2 separate regions of the Homo sapiens genome follow, and region 1 is linked to region 2. Evidence: fine-mapped expression QTL. A gene starts in region 2. The other region holds a variant in brackets. All regions are shown on one strand. Distances are from middle to middle. Region 1 has its middle 130 kb from the start of LINC01559. Region 2 holds the start of LINC01559 (long intergenic non-protein coding RNA 1559).

The links.
Region 1: its variant is fine-mapped to the expression of LINC01559 in nasal epithelium (TOPMed, PIP above 0.99).

What each region holds. Positions count from the first base shown.
Region 1 is chr12:13,498,192-13,510,429 of GRCh38, reverse strand. No RefSeq gene overlaps it. Among named protein-coding and RNA genes, the nearest start is that of LINC01559, 130 kb to the right of the region's middle. RefSeq lists a silencer at 8,768-8,968, a cis regulatory region at 11,206 and enhancers at 11,122-11,291, 10,800-11,299, 11,300-11,801. The variant A/G (reference allele first, on the strand shown) is at 5,527.
Region 2 is chr12:13,370,218-13,382,455 of GRCh38, reverse strand. It overlaps LINC01559 (long intergenic non-protein coding RNA 1559), which reads left to right and starts at 5,711. Exons shown (of 3, transcript NR_036555.1): 1 at 5,711-5,942; 2 at 6,031-6,232; 3 at 9,018-11,785. RefSeq lists an enhancer at 5,909-7,108.

The DNA.
Region 1 (12,238 bases), 130 kb before region 2:
CATCCGGTCTTGTGGCATTAACTACATTCCATATCCACTTTATTCTAAATTTTTATTGCTATCATGAACTTTTCCCTAGCCTAGATGCTTACATTCAAATACGTATATTCATTTATTTCACCCTTCAACTGGGAAGTTTAATAATTATCTAAAACATAACATGATAGGAAGATACCTACAGATAACCTATCCCCGTTACCCTGCTGCTTTTGAAACTTTCCCTCTTCAGTAAGTAGCCCCTAGTGTCTCACACCAAAAATCCATAAAGTAGCCTTGATTTCTCCCTATCATTCACCACAATATATAAAACATCATCAAATCCTCTCAGTTCCATCATCAAAATATATTCAAACCAACTCACTATCCTGCATCTCTACTGCTTCTACCCTAACAGAAGTCAATATCATTCTTACCCTTTTTGCCCTGCTTACAGTTTATTCACCACAGAGTGGCCACAGTTATTTTTAAATGCACAAATCACTTCATGTTACACCCCTTTGAAAACTCCTCCCACTGTTTTTTATGCTATCTGGAATAAAGGATACACTAAGTCCTTAGCCTGACTTTGAATTCCCTAAGTAATCTGGCCTCTGCCTCCCCCTCCAACCTCACCTAAGACCACTGTTCCCCCCAGTATCCTCTACCTGCACCAGCTTTCCTTTGGTTTCTCAGATTTTCAAGCTCATGGCCACCTTTGCCCTTGCTGCTCCTCTGCCTGGGATGCTGTTGCAGCAATCATCACAAGGCTGGTTCCTTCTTCTTCAGATCTCAGCTTAAATGCCACATTCGTGGTAAGGCAGTTTGTGGCTACATCTAAATTAGGCATTAGATGCTCTATCATTTCACTTCAGTATAATCCTCTGCATGGCACTTTAATGTATTCTTTTTGTGTGATTATATTCTCCTCCCCTACCCACTAGAAAGTGAGCTCTGTCCAAGCTTTTCTGACCATTCACCACTGACTATACCACGTGTGCCTACAACTGGCACATTCTAGAGATTAAGTAAATTTCTTGTTGAATAAGAAATGAGCTAAGATAGCTTTTGGGCTTCATAATTTAGCTATGAGGGGCCAGTGATGTGGTTAAAGGGGTATCATTTTCCACCCCTTCAGAAGGCCAGCCTCACCTCTTAATAGAACCCCAGTCCTTCATTCCACCGCATGTCCTCCCTTCTCTCCCAGCACTTCTCACCTGCACTGCGTCAATCGCCTTCTGATAACACTCCCTGTCCTCTTTCTTTCCCTGATCCAATCCATTCTACACATCACCACCAGAACTCTTGAAATTCTTTTGTCACCATATTGCTTTCCTGCCCTAAATCTTCACAAGTTTTCCACAGCTTACAGAATAAAGTTCAAAATCTTCAGCCTGAATCAAAGAATCTTTTACAATGACTGTGAAAGCTGCCTGTGAATATAAAAGAAACACCAAATATGTGTGGTCCAGCAGGTGGGACACTCTGAGCTGAGTTATGTCTCCTTTCCCTTCATAACTCAAGTGATTTTTTAAAGATGATAGCTGAAATTCAATGTCAAATGACCCCAGATAGTAGCCACTGCCCCGCCCCCAACCCACAATACCTGAGCAAGGCTCCACAGTAAGTATCACTACAGGTATCTGAGCTGAAGCCAAGCACATATGCACATCAAAATGCTTTTGAGAGTTTCACAAACACAAGGTTCTTCCCAAATCAATTTGAAAGGTTTACCAAGGCTCTATGATCATTTCTTTAGTAAAAGGCTTAGGTGGTTTTTGATGAGTGGTCTAGTATGTGTACACTCCTCCTTATATTCTTTTGATTCAAACCAGTATGGACAAGTTGTTCTGAATACTAAATGCACATTAGAATAATATGGGAAGCTTTAAAAAGAATACCAGTGCTGGAGCCCCACTGCAATTGAACTGAATCAGTGTCTCTGGGCTGAGACCCAAGCACCCAGGTTTTACAACAACTGTAAATCTATGACCCACTAATCGAGACATAAAATAGAATGAACTTGCAGGAAGGAAGACTCCAGGGAATCCTAGCACTTCCTAAAATATTAAGAATCAAAGTTTAAAAAACTACGTCGGCCAAGGGGAGGGCAAGGGGGGGGGGGGATAGGGAGATGACTAAGATAATTAGCATAGTAGCTGATATTTGATAACATATGATGCCAGTCACTGCTCAAAATGCACTAACTTACTTATCTTCACTGCAATCCTATGAGGAAAGTATTATTGCTTATCCCCATTTTACAGATGAAGAATCCGAGTCATAGAGAGAAGGTTAAGTAATTGCCCAAGGTCAGCAAGGTAAAGCTGTGACCTGAACCCAAGAAAGCTGACTTTAGAACCCTACCTTATCTGCCACTAATAGCAGCAGCATGCATTTACTTAGGCCTTATTGAGTACAAGGTGCTCTTCTGAGTGTTTTATACATATTATCTCACAAGACTGTTGTAAAGATTAAATGAGATAATATGTATAAAATACCTAGAACAGCACCTTGTACTATTAGTCTATTATCTCCAGTTTACACATAAGGACACTGAAGCACATGTGGGTTAAGCCACTTGACCAAGCACTCTACCAGGAATGGGAACTGGGAACATCCTTTGCTGTCCTCCTGGAGCTCCATGCTGCAGCTGTTCTCCTGGGGATAAGGCAGGTGCACTCAAAGTTTGCCTGTTCTCAAGAAAATTATTGACAGCTTCTTGGTGCTACCATATTCATTCTTTATTTTAATTTTAAAAGCCTGAAAGCCTGCTTATGAAGGTGTTAGGGAGCCCACAGCAGATGTTTGATTAGTAGTACACATGGGGTTGATGGGAGCAGGGTCCCCTCAGCCCCTCATAGAGGCAGAATTCCCTAGCTGGGAATTCTGAAGTGGATCTTTCTACAAGAAGCCAGACTGCATATGTATCAGACAAAAATCGCAGGCCCTTACCAAGTCCCCTCCTGTGGTTCCTTGGTCCCTCCCCATCCTGTGTGCCAAGTTCTCATGTGCCTCATGTGCCTAGTCCTCATGTGCCTCATGTGCCTAGGACAGGCTGCTCATAATGCTCATCAGAGCTCCTCGAACCCTCCTCCTCCTTCCATTAATATGTACCTTCTTTTCTATTCTAAAACTGCTCAAATGGATCAAGAAAGTATAATTTTAAAATATCCAACCTCTGTCCAGGAGAGTCTTTTTTTTTTTTTTTCCACCTAGGCGGGAATTCAGTGGCACCATCAAGGATCACTGCAGCCTTTACCTCCTGGACTCAAGCAATACTCCCACCTCAGCTTCCTGAGTAGCTGGGTCTACAAGCACCATGGCTTTGAGGGAAAGACAGGAATTAATAATGGAAATTAGAGGTACCTTGGTCAAGTTGAAAAGTTTATATTCAGTTTTACAGGCAAGAGGGAGCCATTGCTGGTTTTGAGCAGAACAAAGTCGTGGGTCCTACTTTAGAAAATCGATCTGGCAGTGATACGTAGAATGAATTGGAGCAGAGAAAAGAACAGTTGGTTGGAACATGGTGCTGTGAAGCCAAAGGCTTGGGAACGTTGGCACAGATCATGCGGATTCATCAGTACAAGCCATTCTTGCTGCTAAAAAGCCGGTCAAAGAGCACATCTAACTGATGGATTTGTATTAGGAGGACAGCACTTAAAATATGTGTCTACTCTGAGCTGCTTTTATCTTCAGATACCATGTTAGGAAAAAGCTTCCATACCTCTGTCATTACTGAGTTACTAGCCTCCTTGGTGCATTAAATCTTCTATTTTCAGACCTGAATGTCCTGGGCAAGTAACTCTATTTCACAAGGATGGGGATGCTATTTCATCTCTCTTTATGTGATGCAGGGCTGGATCCAGGCAGAACTTTCTGCAGAACCCTTCTGTTACCACCTCCCCCATGATTTGTCCCTTTCCTCTCCTTGCTTACTTTATCCATCTCTGACCCCACTCCAGGACACTCTATCCAGCAGAAGAATGATCCTTTCTCCCTGCCCATCCCCCTCCATTGTGGCTGACATCTCACCACCTTGACCCAAGCATTCACTTGGGTGACATTAGCTGTACTTTGATCTCTGACTCTGGCACAGTGACCAACAAATTTAGGGGCAAATAATTTCAGAAGCAAAGAATAAAAAATTCTTTGGCTGTGTTTATGAGTCACTGTGGCTGCAGGAATCTTCAGCTCTGCAGAATTCTGTATTTCCAGTGTTTTATTTCTAAACTTGAATAAAGCCAGGTTAGGCTACTATGTTCTAGTTCATGAACTTCTCCCATCAGACAGGCTGGGTAGAGATAAGAGAAATCAGGGGATCTTGTTCCTATGAGAGGGACTTTTCTGACCCCTTGGCCAAGTTTTGCCATGATCTGCAAGTTCCACCATCTCTGCTGTTGAACGTAGTGTTAATCATTCTCACGGCCCGCTTAGGTTTTGATCTGGGTCCTGAGTTTACGCATATTCTTTCGCAGACACACAAGGGTAGGAGGACCTCAATCAAATCCTGCCAAATTGTGGCTACTGTGTATTGTTATGGAAAGCAGTACAGGTTACAATCAATAGTTTGGGCAACTGAGATTTTCTTAATGATTTGGGGGATAAAATTGCTGACTCATTATTCAGACTGCAACCTCCCTTCCACTGTTACCCCAAGAGCAGCGAATTGGGCTTTCAGAATTTTCCTCTGCCAACTGCGCACGTCAAGAAGGCTCTGAGAGTCACTTTTTCCTTCCAATTCTTTTTGTTTTTCTTTGCTGAAAATCACCCTGTTTCTCTTCCTTTCTTTAACTTGCTGACTTCTCACCCTCACAACACTCTGTTCCTTTTAGAGTATCCCCTATCTCAGCCAATGGTAGCATCATTTACCCAGGAACCCAAGGTAAAATCCTGGAAGTTATCCTAGACTAGTGGTTCTCAAACTTGAGCTTGCATCAGAACTAGCAGGGCTTGTTAACACACATACTGCTGAACTCCAGCCTCAGTGTTTCTGATTCAGTAACTGGTTCACAAGGTCTGGGGTTGCCCCCAAATTTGCATTTCTAATACATTCCTATGTGTTGTTGCTGCTGCTGCTCCACCTATCACACTTTAAGAACCACTGTTCTAGAAACCTGCTCTTTTCCCCTTTCTTCCTATACCACAAATAACTAATCAGGTTCCATTGATTTATGTCTCCAACTTAGTCTATCTTCTCCCTGGAACTACTGTCCTAGGTCAGGCCTTTGCCATTCTTTCTTAAGCTCTTGAAATCACCTGTAAGCCACACCTCTCTACCTCCAGTCTTGCCTCTTAAATATATATAGCTAGTGAAACGATCTCTCTAAAACACAGATCAGGCCCCATTTTTTCCTTAATGACAACCCTTCAGTGGCTTTTACGCTACCAACAGAACAATGGTTAATTTCTTCAGCATGGCAGGCAATGCCCCTTGTGACCTGGCCCTGTTTACCTCTGCATTCTCATTTTGGCACTACCCCCGTGCTAACCAAGTGCTAAAAGTCCCCAGCATACAGCATGCAGTTTCTTGTTCTCTCAGACGCTGCC[A/G]TTTTGTCTAGACCTGTCTTCCTGTCTGTACATCTTGGCTATTAGCTCAGCCTTCCATTGTCCAGATACCCTTCCTTTATAATCCCCATAGTGACTGCAGTGACCCCACGCAGCTCTCCCAGGGTCCCCTAGCACATCTCTACACTATTTCTGAGCACATTATATTGAAATTTCCTGTTTGCATGTCCTCTTGTGGCAGGAAATTTATCAAGTTTTATCTCTAGCACCTAGCTCAATGAATGCTTGCTGAGCTGAATTTCCTCACCAAAATTCCTTCTCCCCTTCTCCTGGTACTGGGCCTGGCTCTGCTTTTCCCCTACACACACTTCCCTCTTGATCTTCACAGAAGAGATTAAAGATCTCAGAAGGGCCAGTGATGGCTGAGATTCAGCCCACCGGCAGCATTTCTTAGTCACTCTGTGAAGTCTAGTTATATTTTCTCATGCATCCTTAATAAAACAACAGCTCTACTTTGCACAAAATCAGCCTTTCTCTTCAAAGACTTTAGGGAGCTTTACAGCTCTGGCTATGATATCCTAAGTGGAACACTGTGTGGTAAGGAGAGGCCAAAAAGAGATGAAAGTGGCACATTTAAAGGCCAAAACCCAAATCAAATACATTTCTTGTGCTGTGTTTATGAGTCACTGTGGTTACAGAAATCTTTAGCTCTGCAGAATCCTGTATTTCTAGTGTTTCATTTCTAAACTTGAATAAAGCCAGGCTAGGCTAGTGTGATGTTCCAGTTTCTGAGCTTCTGACCTCAGACAGGCTGGGTAGAGATAATAGAAATCAGGCACAATCCCAAATGAGAAAATGTTTCATTTGCCTCCCCTTCCTCAGGTTTTGTTTTAGCTTTCTGAGTAGGAAATTACACATTCAGAGAAAGATGCCCCTAACTTCTTAGCCATCTATATGATGTTAATAGATGAAAATTTCGATCCTAAAAATGTGAATGGGAGAAATTGTTAAGATTGGGTAGAGGCTAATGTAATATTCGGGATTAAAGTTTTTAAGTAGGCAAGATGAATAAATTTTGGAAATTAATCAAACAACTGACAATGTTTCACCAAAGTATTTTATGTGTTTAATATACACTGTGCACATTCTCCTACAGGCATATGCAAATGTATAAACTTAACATATTAAATAGCAGACTAGGGGATGAGAAGCACTTTAGTGTATAAAATATTATTATTTTCATTATTGTTATAGCAAACTTGAACACTCTTTACTGGAATCATTATTTGCTTGGAGAAATTTGCTGAGTTTGGCAATTTTCCACTGTCATTATGAATTTCTCTTTGTCAGGCAGCAGGGCCTCTGGAAGAGAGAAGGGTAAGTAATTCAGACAACTGGTTAGAAAAGAATCCTGTTTTTTTTTTTTATCAGTTTCTTTGGCCTGAATGCTGAATCTTTTGGCCATGAATTGTCTGAACCACCTGTCCCACACCGTCCATTTCTGAGAAATAGTCACTGCATTCTTCTCTAGGTTGTCAGAGGCTGAGAGGACAATAAATGGAGATAGCCAAGGATTCTTTCCAGCAAGAACTGTCTTGATCTATAGGCATCAGAGATAAGAGAAGCCCTGGGTGCTTTGTTCTAACAGGCTACTGAGGAATGATCATGGGTGCTGACCTTGAAATGCTGATGGAAACTCAACTCAAGTTGTGACATAGCAGTCTGCTTAACCAGCAGGGCAGAGCATTTCTCCAGCGCTCTTTCAAGAGGACTGTTAGTTGCATCCTGGTGTGCAGACTCAACCAACAGGAGGAAGAATAGACAAATAGTTCTTGTTCATTGCTGTTTTGGGGGCCCTTTTGAGTTAAGCTTAGTTTTGTTTTCTTAATGTCAAATCTGGCTGCTACAGTTTTGTATATGGTCATCTCACTTTCTAATTCTAGGTTTGCAAACATGAATGAGAAAATATCCAGCCAAGTATTTGGTGCTATCTGGCTTAGGAGCCATTGACCCAAATAACTGGTATCTCACAATGTGGATGACAAGGACCATAAACCAGCAGCACCCAATCCACTTGGTAAGGGTTTTTAAACAATGGGGTATAGTTATTTTTACTAATGAATATTTTACAAATAAAAACATTTGTGCTGACCTAGTTGAAATTTGGCAGATGTGACTGTTCCAAACTCAGCAAAGGGATATTAAAATAATGAATTCAATAAAGGAGTGTTACTTTCTTAATTCAAAATTGTTTATTAACTTTATTGGTATTTAATTTTTTTCCTTTTAAAATTAATTCCATTTAGTTGAAAGGTCAGAATTATGGTTCTCTCTATATTGGGGCATATCACCCTCACCAAATTATAGACACACAGGTTAGGCCACAATTGGGCAGTCTTTCTTGCTTGAACTGTAAGAGGCACAGGAATTAACACCATTGTATTCATGAGAAGAAGTAGAAGAAGAGGGAAAGAACATTTGTTTGGAGTAACAGTTACATTAAAAAATCTGAAGCTCCATAAATCACAGAACATTTAACAAAGAATCTGACTTTTCACTGCTTTACCACTCCCCTTCACCCCATCTATTTCCTTTGTGTATTCTAAATTAGGATGTATTCCAACAGTTATCATAATAGCTCTCATTTATGCACCCCTTGCATTGCGCTACTTATTTTATATATATTTACCTCTTAAAGCCATAAAATAATCTTATGAAATGTATCATGTTTCAGCCCCATTTTACATAAAACTGAGGCACAGAGAAGCTGAAAACCTTGCCCAGTATCACAAAGCTAATAAGTGAAGGAGTCAAGACTTGAATCTAGGTAGTTCGGCCAAGAAGGGATTAACAAAGTGCCACTATTTTCCTAGCCATAGTGCAGTATCTCCGTTGGCCAAAGGAAAAGGGGGAAATTTGGATCCCCCAGATAGGATTAAATAGTAGAATTGGTCAGGTTCCCAGACTCTGGGGGCTGTGGCCATAAGTGATCTCTCTGCTACCCCATGCTCAGAAAAAGGAAATGACCAGTCAAGACAAGAAATGCTTGATTCTAATAGGGTGTGGTAGTCTCTTCAAGACGGTCCTCTGAAATCCCCACCTCCTGGTAGTCATACTCTCATGCAGTTTGTTCCATTTTGTGGCAGTCATACTCTCATGCAGTCTGTTCCATTTTGTGGCAGAGTTGGTCTGGGACCAACAGCAAATGGCAGAAGTTATGGTATGTCACTCTCAAGGTAGATTACAATGGACCGCGGCTTCTGTCTAGGTTGTTCTCTTGTGTGTGCTCAGATTGTGGGCTTTGGGAAGCCAGAAGCTGTATCACAAGGACATTCAGGAGCCTATGGAGTCACCAGCCTGAGGAGGAGCTGCAATCTGCAGCCAATAGCTAGTGAGGATCTGAGGTCTGCTGACAACCATGTGAGGGAGCTCAGAAGCAGATTTTCCAGCCCCAGTCAAGCCTAGAAATGATTGCAGCCTGGCCGAAAACTTGATTAGTCAGAAGCACTTAGCTAAGACACTTCTGGATTCCTGACCCTCAGAAACTGTGAGATAATAAATGTTATTTAAGCTGACAAATTCTGGAATAATGTTGTTATTCAGCAATATATAGCTAATACATAAGGTGTGAAGAAGCAGTTATATAAGTTAGTATCGGTGCCAGGGGAAAGGAGGACCACTATGATCTGAGGAAGGAAATGGGTGTCCAAATGCAGGAGTGTGGCCCCACTGTTTAGAAGTTGCATCTGTGTGAGTCTCCATGGGAAATAAGGTATAGAACTCAGTAAGGATCCAGCTAAGACACATGGTAAATTGTGCAGGTGCCTCTCAGTTTTTCCTCATTTGCAGGATGTGCTGTATTGAGGTGGGAATGAGCTAAGCTGTGACTAGGAAGGCCTGTCTGTGATCCCTGGAGAAAGCACTATTGACTTACCAGCCTCTGCAGTCCCTCAGTTAAAACAGAAGCTTCAGAACAGCAGGGACAGCTGAAGTGGTTCTGCGCCACACCCAGAGAAATCAGTCTCAAATAAGATCACCCAGGGCCCACTTTACTCCAGAGGAAGAGTGGAGGAAGCATGGGCACCTTCGTCCACCTTGCAGAAAGCACTGACCTGGATTCTGAGGTGCGGCCCTGATCCCAGGAGTATTTGTTTCCCTGGACAGCTGTAACAAAGGATCACAAACCTGGTGGCTTAACACAACACAAATTTACTCCCTTGCAGTTCTGGAGGCCACAATTCCAAAGGCACAGAGTCAGCAGGGCCATGCTCCTTCAAGGGTGCTAGGGAAGAATCCTCGCTTGGCTCTTTCAGTTTCCGGTGGTTGCCTGCATCCAGGGCTCTCCTTCCCTCGAAGCTGCATCACTCCAATTTCTGCCTCTCTCTTCATGTGATGTTCTCTTCCTGTGTCTGTGTCTCTGTGTCCAAACTGCCCTACTCTTAAAATGATACCAGTTGTATAGCATTTGGTACCTACCGTATCTTTTTTTTTTTTTTTTTTGGAGACGGAGTCTTGCTCTGTCACCCAGGCTGGAGTGCAGTGGCACAATCTCAGCTCACTGCAAGCTCCGCCTCCCGGGTTCACGCCATTCTCCTGCCTCGGCCTCCCGAGTAGCTGGGACTACAGGCGCCTGCCACCATACCCGGCTAATTTTTTGTATTTTTAGTAGAGACGGGGTTTCACCGTGTTAGCCAGGGTGGTGTCGATCTCTTGGTACCTACTGTATGCTAATGTGATTATGTCTGCAAAGGTCACATACAGAGGTTCAGGTGGAGATGAATTTCGGGGAGACACTAACGACACTGACGTGATCGGTTCTCAAATATACCTCCTCCTTGTCATTGATTCCTGGCAACTGTGGTCCTGGCAACTTCTTCCCTGGCTCCTTCCACAGACTGAGCTTCCATTTCTCTGATCTCTGCTTACCTGCCTTCCCAGACTCCCTCTGCTCATCTCTCTACCCAGCCAGAGGTGCAGAGCAGACAGTCAACATGGCTCTGGTCTAGAATTGAGGAGAACAAGGATATCTCCTTGGGCTCTGTCGTTATGGTGTGATTTTAACTTCCGGGGTGATCAGATTTTCTGTCTATAAGATGGTTAGGTATCTGTGCTACATCTGTTATGACTAAGCAGTATGTTGGTTACACACAGTCCCTGAGTTCCATGCCACCAGTATTATTGGAGAAACTGGCTGTCATCATTCAGTATTAGCCTCTTCTTTCCCTTCAACAGATTAATATTGCTAACCTATTGCCTCTCTTTTAGATCTTCCTATTTTTCCTCCTGTTTAGCCAGATCCTGGTAAGCACACACAGGTTCCTGGCAGAGAAGTGACCCCGACATCACCACAACCTCCCACATCGGGAGACTAGAGCCTCTGGTCCAGCATCTTTCACCTCACAGAAAAGCATGGCCTTCACATTGAGGGAGGATTCAAATGTCTCCCAATTCTTCCAAACCCTGGCTTACGGACTCTCGTTTCCTTTCTGAAAGGCTCTGAGCTCCCGGCTTCCCACTGGCCCTTTTAGCCATTCCCTGTCCTCTTCCACCAACCCCCACTGCCACCCTCCTTACAGAGTATTCTGTCTCTGAGCAGAGCCTGCCAAGGCTGAGCAGGTTTGAAGGAAGCTCACCATAGCCCAGCCATGGATGGGGAGCATGGGGAGGGGTGGGCAGCCCAGCCTGGCCTGTGCAGGCTATGTGGCTGCACGGCTGAGAGTTCCTTGCCTGCAGCCTTCTCTCAGCAGGCTCCCCTCTGTGAGAAGCCCCTGACAATGTGTTCCCATTAGAGTGAGGTGTGAACCTGAGCTCTGAGTTCCAGCCCCGAAGCCTCAGGGAAGCAGGGAGAGCAGTGGCCTGTTCGTTTGGGAGGCCACACACTGCTGTATTTCCAGTTTTATTTCTGGTGTCTGGTCATTCCAGGTAACACTAGGGTGGGAGGACATCACATAGCTGACAGTTCACCTCCTCAAGGAGTAGCATCTCCACCCCAGCACAGGCTCAAAGGGCCAAGGTCAGACTGCAGAAACGGCAAGGAAAGAGAGCCAGGGACGCGCCTGGACTGAGTGCCCGCAGCACTCCACCTCACAGCCTTCACTATCAGTCCTAACTGGAAATGGCAGGTTATTCTCTAGTGAGGCAAGGAGGAGAGCATTTTGTTCACCTTCTGTGAAAAAGAGAGGAAACATCTGAGAAGAAAAAGAGAATGATTTGCCAAGTCATTTGCCTGAGGAGGAAGTGGAGCTCAACAAGATGCAAAAATTCTTCCTCGCTCCTTTAGTGTCACTTGTGGAGAGCGTGTCCCTGACTGTGCAACTGTGGGTCCCAGCACTGCAGTCTGGGAATGCTTCGAGTAGTGGCAAGGCAGCCAGGAAAGACACTCTGAGGGAGGTACAGGCTCCAGGGTGTTCTGAAGGGGAGACAAAGATGTAACCAGTCCACGTGACTGATGAGAGACTCAAAATTACGGTACAGGGAATAGGAGGTGGGGGCTGAGTCCAAACCTCCCCTCAGGATACAGGGCTTGGTCTGAAGACTCGCTGGAGACCTGTGTCTGGACCAGGAGCCTGTCTAGCAATAACCGAGGGGACAACACACTGCTAGGGATGAGCCAGGCTGATGCACCTTCCAGCTGGGAAGCACTGAAAGATACAGAGATGCCACTCATCCCTCTCAGTTCTGCTTCCCCCCATGGACCTTACCAGGGACTCTGTATGTATAGCACAGCATGCAGTTTACCTGTTTGTGTGTGATA
Region 2 (12,238 bases):
AGGCAGCTCCTGGCCTCTGACTCTGAAGGTCACATAGACTCTGCTATGGATTTTCTCATTGGGTTTATAGAGGAGAAGTTATCCCTGGTATAGGTATGTTTCAAGAGAGTAACATTTCTGTTTCTACCATTCATGGTATTCTTTATGTGCCAGGAATTTGCTAGATGTGGGGAAGACAGCAGGGAACAACAGTCTCTTCCCTCATGAAGCTTGAATCTCTTCATTTTGAGACTCTGTAATTCAATACAGAAAGTCCCTAACCTAAATGAGTTGTAGGCTGAAACAAAGCTTCTGACTTTAGGCAATTGTTTAATATCTGCTTTTTAATCTCATTTTGTCCAAGTTGACAGGCTTTGATGTGTGGACCATCAGCAGGATTGCAAAGTGTTAACAGATGGAGAGGAAGGACAGGAGTGGACAGAGCTTCCCTCCCAGATGGAGTGATTGATTGATATTTACCACACGGAGTGATAGAGCAGTAGATCACCATGGGATGACAGCCTAGAGCTTTAGCAGCAGGTCGACTTTGGTGTAAGTCCTGGCTCTGCCTCTTAACAGTTTCCGTAGGATTTAGTTTTCTCATATGTAACCTGGGCATAAGACTACACACCACCCGAGGTAGTTGTGACAGTCAAATCACAGGTGTACAGGTAAATCACAGACCAAAGCATTCAGCACAGTTATGGCCATGGTAGGCGGTAAATGGACCATAGCTGTTATCATTATTACACTGAATCCCCTTAGGGTTGCAAAGCACCCTTTCACAATTGATATCCTGATACCATTGAGGAGCACAGAACTCGTGTATTTGTCCATGATTATGCACAGTTAGGTGGTAAAATAATTGGAAGGACCTTAAAGATAAGTACAACTCTTAAATCTCTGATATTTTTCCCAAGTACCTCCTTCTAGGGTCTAAGCAGAACAGGGAGCTCAATAAACACTTGTGAACTTAAATTCAATTCAAAGAGTATTCACAGACCCCAAGCCTGTGCACTGAGCTACTGGGGCAGAGGGTTGGGAGTTCTCTGGACCCAAAGAGAACTGTATTGCTTTACAGTTCTCTTTGAGTCCAAAAGAATTAGACTGTGAACAACTAACAGTCCCTCATAGAATAATAAAATACATGTCAATATAGATCCATGAAATGAGTTGTGAAAACCATCACCAATTTTCTAATCCACCAATTAAACACACACTAGAGTAGTAGTAGCTTATTGAATGTGTATGATGTACCAGGCACTGCACTAGACAATGGGCTTTCAAAAATAAACATTGATATAGTATATTACTTCACAGAACAGCAAGAGAGACAAATGAATCATATAAGTCTAGTATAAATAGGTACAGTGAGAGAAATACATATAAGGCACATGAGTAAGAGGAATGAGTTAGGAAGACTTCATACATGAGGTTTAAAAGATAAGTAGGAGTTTCACAGATGAAGAGAGCAGGGGCACAGCGGGCAGACATAGCTGCATGTGCTAAGTGAGAGGTGCGCCCAACAGCTTAGACCTTTGGAAGAGGGGCAGGCAGATCACTACAGCTTCAGCTCAGTCTGAAAAGCAGAGAATGGTGGAATATGAGGTGGAGATGGAGGGAGGATGGAGATCATGGGCCCCCTATCGTGCCATGCTTAGGAACTTATGCTTTATCCTGTGAGCAATAGGGATCACTGAAGGGCTTTAAGGAGTGACAATCAAATTTGCCTTTTAAAAAGACATGGAGGGTTATTTGGACATGGGAAAGGAGACGAACTAGAGACGGAGAGACCAGGTTTCTGACTCTCCTGGAGCTATTGCCATGGTGATGGCAAGAGCTTGAACCAAGGCAATCGTAGTAAAGAAGGAAGGAAACAAGAGAGGAAGGGAGGGAGGGAAGGGAAAGAAAGGCAGGGCAAGGAAGAAGAAAGAAAGGAAAGTAAGAAGAAATGGAGAAAGGAAAGGGAATGGAAGGGAAGAGAAAATAAGGGAAGGGAAGGAAGGAAAGGGAAAGGAAGAGATGAAATTAAGAGATGTTTAAAAGATGGGATTCCAAGGGCTCAGTGACTGATAGGATGTGGGCAGTGGGAAACTTGAGAATGATCTCGATTGAAAGTGTGAAAGAAGGCCAAAGACAAGCTAGCATGGATTATAGAAGGCAGTGGAGCAGAGAAGGAGAAAATGGCTGTGGGGCAAAGAAGCACATGTGTTGTATGGAGGGTAAAAAGACCTGGGAGAGAGGTGTGCAGGTGTTTGGGATGAATGCTATCTCCATCATGGGTGGATAAACTGCCCCAGAACCTGTTTTGTGCAGTCACATGAGTGTGGACAGCTGTAAGAGCTTATCTTGGGTACAGGCAGGGCACAGTCACACTGTGTGTGCATGGCTCTCTTCCCCCTCTCTGTCACGCTTTCTAAAGACTCTCATAAGAACCCACTGTTGGCAGAGCCACATTCAGAAGTCAAACTTGGTAATTGATACCGTAATCCCCTGGATTCCCTCATTAGCAGCTGCTAATGGCTGGTGTGTTAACCATTCAATTAGGGCTCTAATAGGCCCATTATAAACTGCATCCATTCGAAGGGAACAGAAGAGCTGGGAGAGAAGACTGAAGCTGGCAGTGAAGATCCCTGACAACACCAGAGGCCTCCCACTGTCTCTGACTGGGGTGCCCTAGGTCTGGATTAAGCCAGAAGGCCTCTCCAGAAGGCCAGCCCAATGGCCAGATATTGGACTTCACAGAGAAAACAGTGGGCCTGGGATGGCCTCCAGCCAAAAATCTGGAGACTTTCTCTGCTGCAAAAAGAGCCTCCCTAGGTCTGGACATCCTCTGGTGATTTACCCTCTCCCAAACCTGTACCTGTAAATTCTGCTTTTACCTCTACTCTACCCAGCAACCCAAACTCAAAGGAATATTCAGAGCATCTGATTCAGAGAGATTGCCAGTGCAGCCACCTCCTCCAGCATCTGCCCTAGAGTCCTGGCCCATTTCCATCTCTCCAGCACGTTTTCCCTCCAAGATATTCTTTTTGGAGAAGAGAAAGTTTGAGATATGGACCTTGCAGAGTTATTTAGTCGGGTGAGGGTGTTGCCAATGCTGACCTTACACAATTCAAGAGACCCTGGGGAAAGTTCTACATGTGGCCCCCTTCTTGTGGTTTATGTCTCTATCTCCAGAGAGATCTGACTTATTAGAAACAAATTCCTCATCAGCAAAACTGGGATATCACTGGTAGCAGGTATCCCTCACTAGAGGCCAGCATATATTTTCCAGGACTCACTGGAATAGAAGTAATTGCAAAGATTCTTAACCAGCCCCTTAGTTGGTCAGAGGAAATGCAGGGAGGTGGGATTTACTCAAAAAATTGGTTCTGCATCAACCTCAAGACCACCAGGCTGCTCTATGTGTCACGTTATTTCTTTTATCCTTTATTGTTTTAATTCTCACTTCTGAAAAAATAATCAGATAACGTATATGCAAATATTCCATAAAGCATAAAATATCCTCTCTCTTATCTACCTGCCTTTTCAGGTCCTGCCCCCAGAAACCTCCCACAAGCCTTGGAGCCTCCAGTCTCACATACAGACCTTGATCTGACCTTGGGATCCACATTGCAAAGCCAAACCCATTTTCACACACACACACACACACACACACACACACACACACACACACACACCAAAAAAACAGAAACCAGGGAACTTAACCATACCACTTGCTGCTCTCCAACATCTTTTCAAGCCCTGCCTGTCTTCTTACCTCTGTTGTCTTCTATAGCTAGTGGGAGGCAGCTTCTCTGGGGTACTCTGTCAGACTCTGTCAGCATGATGCCTTAACTAGGCAATTTCTTATGCTTCCTAGGCCTAGATAACATAGCCAGCAATCCTACCTGCTGGGCCAGGGTCAGGAAACAAACTGAAGACACTGTGGAAGGCTTTTCTGAGATCACCTAGAAGCCAGGGCAAAGAATCAACAGAGAAACCAGCTGACTCTAGTATTGACTGTGAGTAGCAGAAAGAACACCAAACTAAGAGCTCCAACTAGTTCTGCTAGTTAGCTTTGGTTAAATCCTGTCTCCCCTCTGGAGTCATCTACAAAGGGAGAAGATTATTCTGATCGTCGTTTTGTGAGTGCCACCAGAGGAACAGAGAACTCCCCGCTGCCGCCCCACCTTTTCTGATAGCCCCAGGATTTCAGGCCTGCCTCCTGCCTTCCTATGTGTGGACAGAAATAGGCTGTAGGGAGGGCTAAGGCTGGGAACACACCCTACAGAGTCTAATACCTGCTTTGCCTCACAAACCATGTTAAATTAGAAATAATGCATAATCAGGCTGTTTTATCCTACCCAGAAGCTAGCAGAAAGAATTTGGCAAAAGCTGTTAGGAGGTCATAGGAGAGAACCATGTTACCATTGTTCTCAGAGGCCTCAAGAGAAGGTGGTGTGTTCTAGAGTTAGTTGTAACTATGCAAATGTGGTAGGCAGATTTCTAAGCAGGCCCCCATGCCGTTAACCCTATGATGTCATTCCTATGATTATGCTATACTGCATGTCAAAAGGGATTTGCAGGTGTAATTAAGGTTACTAATCAGTTGACTTTGCAATAGGGAGATTGTCCAGATGGGTGTAACCTAACAAGCTATAGAGCTTTCTTTAGCTAGTGGCAGAAGGGGAAGTGAGAGATAAATAAAATATGAGAGGGATTTGATGAGAAAGAGGTTCTCTATTGGTAGCATGGAGGGAGTTATAGGGAATGACCTCAAGAGAGCAGTGTCCAGAAGCCAGGAGTGACCAAGAGTCAATAACCAGCAAAAATCAGGAATTGCAGTCCTTCAACCACAAGGAACTGAACTGAACTCTGCTAACAACTTGAATAAGCTTGGAAGTGGATTCTTCCCGGAGCCTCCAGACTATAACCTAGCTCAGCCAACACCTTGATTTCAGCCCTGTGAGACACTGAGCAAAGAACCCAGCATGAGCCCACCCAGACTACAGACATCTGAGATCATAATAAGTAGGTGTTGTTTTAGCCATGATGTTTGTGGTAATTGTTAGGCTCCCTAAGTGTGGCTGCACTATCGCCAGGCCATTATGAACTCTGTGACCAACATGTACACCTCCAGAAGTGAACTCTGTGACTAGCACGTATACCTCCAGATAGCTCCCTGGAACAAAGAGGCCCAAAGCAACAAAAGAATGACCGCAAAGAAGAAAAACAGCAAGTTCCTGTTCCAGCCGGTTAACCATCCCTCCAAATCTATAACGACCAACCCCCAGCTGTAACCTTCTGTAACTTTCCACTTGCTACCCCAGCCTATAAAACCCCCTCTTCCTCATTCCTCAATGCTGACTCTCTTTTCGGACTCAGCCGGCTCACACCCAAGTGAATAAACAAGCCTTGTTGCTCACACTTAGCCTGCTTGGGTTGTCTTCTCAATTAAACACGTGCTTAACAGTTATTTGTTACACAGAAATCAAAATGTTAATATAACAAGTAACTCTGACCCTTCTGCCATTCTGCCTTTGCTGGGCATCTTGAATCTGCAGCTGGTTCAAGGGCTGGTATCTCAAAAGAGGAAATCCAGTTGTGATGGTTAATCTTTTGTGTCAACTTGACTGGGCTAAGGGAAGCCCAGGTACCTGGTAAAACATTATTTCTAGGTGTGGCTGTGAGGGTGTTTCCAAAAGAGATTAGCATTTGAATCAATGTGCTTAGTAAAGAGATCATCCTCACCAATGTGGGTGGGCCTCATTCAATCCATTGCAGACTTGAATAGAACTAAAAGGAAGAGGAAGGGCAAATTTGTTGGCTGCTTGAGCTGGGATATTCATCTTTCTCCTGATCTTGGACATCAGAACTCCTGATTCTCAAGCCTTTGGGTTTGGACTGGAGGCACCAGCTTTCCTGGGCCTCCAGCTTGCAGATGGCATATCATGGAACTTCTCAGCCTCCAAATTCATGTGAGCCAATCCTTTATTATTTGTATAATTATGGTATATTCATTGTATTATATCTATCTAATCTCCTATTGGTTCTGTTTCTCTACAGAACTCTAATACACCAGTACAATGGAAAGATTCCTAAATTCAAAAGCCAGAAGGCTGGGTTCCTGTTCCCACCCTGCCTTTTACCTTCTGTGTGTTCCTGATGAAGACACTTCATGCTCCACTATTTACTTACCTCTGAAACGAAGGGCTGACCCAGATCAGTTGTTCTCTGACCTGCTTGGAGGGACTCAGAGGCTGTGGAGGTGAGTGGGAAACAGGCCAGGTTCCAGGCCCACACTTCAAAGAGACAAGGTCTGCTTTGGACTGTTTTACACACAGGGCTTCTGAGTTTTAGATTTCATTAGAAGTGTTTCTTCTGCCAAATGAAATTTGAAAACCACTGAGCTGGGTGATTATTAGGACCCATTCCAGCTGTCATATTCTTCCAGCATGAAGATCAAGTTCAGCAGTGCAGCAGCTGGAGCTGTGGAAAGAGGTGGTATGAGTTTGGGCTTGAGTTAGTGGACATGGTAGCCAAATCAGAGATCCCTCTCTCATTCAAGTCATCTGTTGCTACCTGTTTGCTCTGGAGGTCTGAACTTCTGGGAGATAAATGTTTAAACTGACAGACTTCAGTTCAAATAATGACTCCACATTCGTATCCTGATATTGGGTAAATAAATAAATCTCTTAAATTCCCAGAGCTGCAGGTTCTTAGCCTATAAAATGATGACATCACCTACTTTGCCCAGTTATTGTATATACTAGTTAACATGGTCTAAACTGTGCCAATTGGAAGACCCAAAATGCAATGCCTTGAGAAGAGTAAAAGGTTTTTTCTCTTTCATGTAAATAGTCTAGAACAGGCCAGGTGGTGGGCCTTCTACTCCAAGCATCCTTCAAGGAACCCAGGAGATGCTAGTTCTATTATTTTCAGCACGTTGCTCACAAGGTTACTGCAAGGTTTGTATTCCAGCCAAGCAGGAAGGTGGGGCGGAGGTGGGGTGGTATGGAGGAGCCTATGAGCCAAGTTTCATGGTCAGGTCTGAGAGTGGCTCACATCACTTCCACTCACATTCTGTTGGTGAGAGCTTAGCCATACAACCACACTGAGTTCCAAAAGAAGCCAGAAACTAGTCCCTGGCTGGATAATTCCCTCCCAGTTAAAATTCTATTGCTTTGGGTGCGCTGAAAAGTCTAGGGTGGTTTCCACCACATTACACATAGAAAAGTGCTTAACACCTAGGAGCCTCCGGCTCAGCATCTCCACATAGGCCCAGCTCTGCTGATTAAGTGTGTTTCCATGTGGGCATATGCGGAGGTGGCCAGCACTATTCCATATCCTCATTTCAGGATTTTTCACAGCTGCTTTCAATCTGCTTCTCCTAAATGACTCTCTTTGGCTACACCTCGTTTTCCTAGAGTGAATATTTCCATCAGCTGATGCCCTTCTCAGGCCTCAATCTCCCCTGGTTTGCAGACTGTGGCCCTCCTTGGCCTCTGTGGAATCTGGCCATTTGAATCCTGTCAGCCCTGTTCTCCATCACCAAAGGACTCCGGAGGAACTGTGCCAAGCAGGCTGTCAGCCACGGGCAAGCTTTCTGAAAAAGACGTGCCAACTGCAGCCACAGAAAGTCCATTCCCTTGAATAACTTTGCTAATATTTGAAAATTAGTTCCCTTGCTCCTGATCATGCTACTGGGTATTTGGATATAAGAGCAAGGATGAGGGCAATAGAAAATTAAAATCATGTTCTACTCATATAAACTGCACAGATATGGAAGGGTAGGTCCTATTACCTATAATCCTGGGATTTTTAGACTCTCACTTTCATTGGACCAGAGTTGCCTTAGGGACAGTAAAAACACAAAATGCTGGGTATTGTTTTCATCAAGCAACTACTGATAGTGCACATTTAAATCAAAATTCTTCTAATCCCAAACTCAGTAAACAGATGCTGTGAGCTTAGTTCTGCCCCTCTGGCTTCAGATTTTACCCCACTGGATGTGCCCAATTCTGAGATGACAAGACGCTTCCAGCTTCCACATGGTTGCAATTTGGCTGTGGAACTGGCATGAAAGCACGTCACTGTGTCAGCACCTGGGCCACCAGATGAATAACCTATGAACAACAGCTTTGGACTAAAATATGAAGGGGTTGTTTTCCTTCAATCTCCCCCTACCTTCCTCAGAACCTGCTACAAGGAAAGATTTATAGACTCGAAAGCGTCAATGACTGATTAGACCCATATGATTGCTCCTGCTGTTTCTGATATTTTAAAAAATTGTCTTATAAAGAGATAAAAATAAATAATCAATGGAAAAACTTTTGGCATGGGAGAGACATTTAGGGAAAGAAGTCATTTCAGCCTCCCCCAACACACACATGCACACACACATACAGCCTATATCACACAATGGAGGTGAGGACCCACTCAATCTAGGCTCAGGACTGGCTCCATGGGACAGATGGGTGGGACAAGTCATCCTGCTGCAGTCAGGTAGCAGAGAGCACCGAGGAGACTAAGATGACAGAGACAAAATAACTAGAGAAAAGATACAGGAGCTAGGGGGAGAGGGTTGAGGTTTGACGAAGCTCTCTCTTCCCAGTAGGGGAGAGTTGGAAGCCACAGATGTAGTTACAGCCCCTTGTTTTCCAGATGAGGAAACAGGTGCTGTGATGTTAAGAGCCCCCAGTAGTGGTCCATGTAGCCAGTGGCCTATGTCAGCTGGGCTCTTACTCTCATGGGAGAGGTGCCACCTTCAAATGTCTGAGATCCACTGACCTTCTTTGAACAATAGCAGCTGAAGTAAGAAAACACCATGAAAAGCCCATGCCTCTTTAGCGCCATTTTCATATTGATGTTCCGTCTTCCTCCATGCAGTCAAAGGGCAACATTTTCTCTGCAACTTCCCAATTTTGCCTGATGCAAATAAAATGTGCTGCTCTTGTCCTTCTCTCCTTTTCCCCTTAGTATTCTTGATTTTCCCCTAGATACTCAAGTAATGCCCAGGTCTCAGGAATGTATAATCTCTTGCTTATCTCTAGCAACAGATTTGGGAATGAGGAATCGTTCCCTGGAAGAGTCAGAGCGCTCGTAGACACATTCTGCTGGATTGCACGAGCTCCTCCCCTGGGAAATCCACTAAGACTAGAGGAAAGAATTGCTTGGAGGATTCAGAGGCTGAAGAGTGGACAGACGGCTTTAATTGAGAAAAAGAAGCAGAAAATTGAGGAAGATGTGAGGCATCAATGCCAGCAGACGACATGTGACAGGTGCTAGCCACATGGATCACACTAAATTTCTGTCATTTATATAGATAAAAAAGAATTTCCAAAGAGCTCCTCCATAATTCAGCATTAACCAGCTTTAAATCATCACCTTTCTTTACCTTTTCAAAGCACTTTTATCTAGCTAGCTTTCACTTTCAGAGTGGCCAATTCAGGTGAGGATTCTCAATCCTGTTCTGCAGCTGAGGAACTCATGCTCAAAAGGGCTAAGAGTTTATTCTCTTACATCCAAACACCTTGCTTTTCCAAATCTTGTGCTCACTTTACCTACACATTTTGATTTTTCCAGGCTGATGACAAGTTAGACATGCAGACTCCTCAGGCTCATTCATAATCTGTATAGACATTACAGGTCATGCAAATTTAAGAAAAGGCTAAAAGGTGCCCGTTTGCACCCAACATGTTGGATAATGCCCCGGTAAAGTGGAAAATCAGTTTCCACAGCCTCGCTCTGTAGGTTTCCTTGGAATTGTAAAAGCATAGGACTCTGCCTCATATTTATTTCTATACGGCAATGAGGATATAAAGGAGCAGACCGAAAAGAGAAAGGAATTTTAAAAGCCATGGAAAGCTGCCCTAAATGTGGTTGGATATAGAGAGGAGAGTGCTGAAGGCAAACAGCTGTGCCCTCTTTGCCTTTTTGCTGAGGAAGGGGATTTAAGCCAAAAGAACACACGTAAACGTGGATTTCTTAAAGTTCTCACTGTAATTATGTAGCCTTGGGAGATGAGGAATTGTAAAGTAGATGCTGGCTTAAACAAATGATAAATCCTTGAGGTGATGGGCACCCCATTTTCCCTGATGTGATTATTACACATAGCATTCCTGTATCAAAATATCCCATGTAACCCATAAATATATATACCTACCAGTATATTTCTGTGGCTAATCTGAAAGCCACCTGCACCCTTGTGAAGACACCCACAGAGACTTCTGCCTCCCCTCCTACCCTCTGGCCTCAAGAGCTCCCTGGGCTCTCCTGTTGCAGGAGGGAGAGGGAGAGCTTCTTTAGGTTCCTGGTAAGGATCTCTGAAGACAATTCCTTAGGCTTGGATAATTCCCAGACATTTGCTAAAAAGCAGCATCCTCCAAAGCTTTAATTTGGATCACAGGAAAATGATGCTCCCGCCTCAGATTCAAACACAGTTTTATCTCACACTGCAAGCTCCCTGGCATGGGCAAAGTCCTCGATGCCTTTCCTGGTGGTTTCCAACATCAAGGACATACTTGTTCCTCCTCCTAGCTCTCTCCCTCAGCCAAGTCCTTCCTTACAATGAATTGTCCTGCAGAACTCCCTCTTAAGCTTGGCTTCTGGGACAGAAAACCTACTTTCTGAAAGGGTATGGGGACTGTCAGAGCATGAACTGGACTCAAGCTCCCAATTACAGAGCAGACACAAGGCTCTGCCTGCACCAGGCCATCCCTGGATTTCTGCAGCTCCAGGACTCTCTTCCAGCATCTAGATGCAGCTACTCTCATTCCAGCTTTGTGTCCTGTTTGATGCAAAATCTTTATTCCTTCCTGTTTCAATCCCTGTTGCATATTCTGTGTGACAAAGCAAGAAGCTGGAAATCGAGTTCTGAGCTTTATACCCAGCTCTGCCACAAATGTGCCATGACCTTGAATAAGTCACATGACTTATCTGGACCTGGATTCTCTCATCTGTAAAAGAGGAAGCTGAGCTATACTACTTTTAAAATGTCTCCAGCTTTAATTTTATTAGAATATCAGCTGCTTCCTCCTCTGGTTTCTCATGGCAGGTTGTGCATTCTTCTCTGGAGACACCAAATTTCATTGGAGTATCTCTCCTTACAAATGTATTTCCCCACTAGATTGGCCCCTCAAGAACAAGGATTGTATTTTAGTTACCTCTGTTATCTCTGTACCTGGGGAGGAGTGAGAAAAGGAGAGCAGGAAAGGCAATGGTATAGTACCAACATTTGTTGAGCTTCTATTATGAGGAATTGTCTATGCTACACATTGTACATAAAGTATGTATGATTCACAGTATAAACATTATAATCTGGAATCAACCTAAATGTTCATTAGCAGATGAATGGATAAAGAAAATGTGGTATATAGACGCAACACAATACTATACAGCCATAAAAAAAAAAAAGAATGAAATCTTGTCATTCATGGCAGCATGGATGAGCCTGGAGGACATTACGTTAAGTGAAAAAAGTCAGGAACGGAAACACAAATGCCACATGTCCTCTTTCATATATGGGAAAATTTAAAAAGTTACTCTCATAGAAGTAGAGAGTAAAATAGAGGCTACTAGAGGCTGGGAAGGGTAGAGGGGCAAGGGTCATAGGGAAAAGAGAGTTAACGGATACAAATTACAGCTAGAAAGATGGGAAGAGTGAATTCCAGTGTTCTAAAGCAGGGTAGGTGACTACAGTTAATGATTATTTATTGTCTACTTATTGTATATTATTGTATATTTTCAAATATTGTATATTTTCAAAGAGGATTCTGAATGTTCCCAACACAACAAAATAATAAATATTTGAGGTGATGGATATGCTAAGGACCTTGATTTGATCATTACACATTGAATACATGTATTAAAATATCACTCTGTACCCCATAGATATGCTCAATTATTTTGTGTCAATTAAAATGATAAAAAAATTATAATCTCATATCTGCTGATGAAGCAACTGGGAAATTAATTTAGCCAGGTCACACAGCTGGATCAGAAATAAAATCCAGGTTTGCCTGGCTTTGCCTACTGTCCCAAGGACCTGGCCTGAAGCAATAGGGCTCTACCAAAATTCTCCAAATATCTAGTAGGTGCTCAATAAATACTCATTAAACAGATGTGACATATATTCTCTTATTTGGCTTTTGGTCAGACTAGGATTTGTCTTTGATCCTTATCTACACTGAGATGGGAGAGGAGCAGAACTGGGGCAGGAGATGAGAGTCCCAAACATAATTTTATTTCAAGGACTTCTGAATTCTTTAATTAA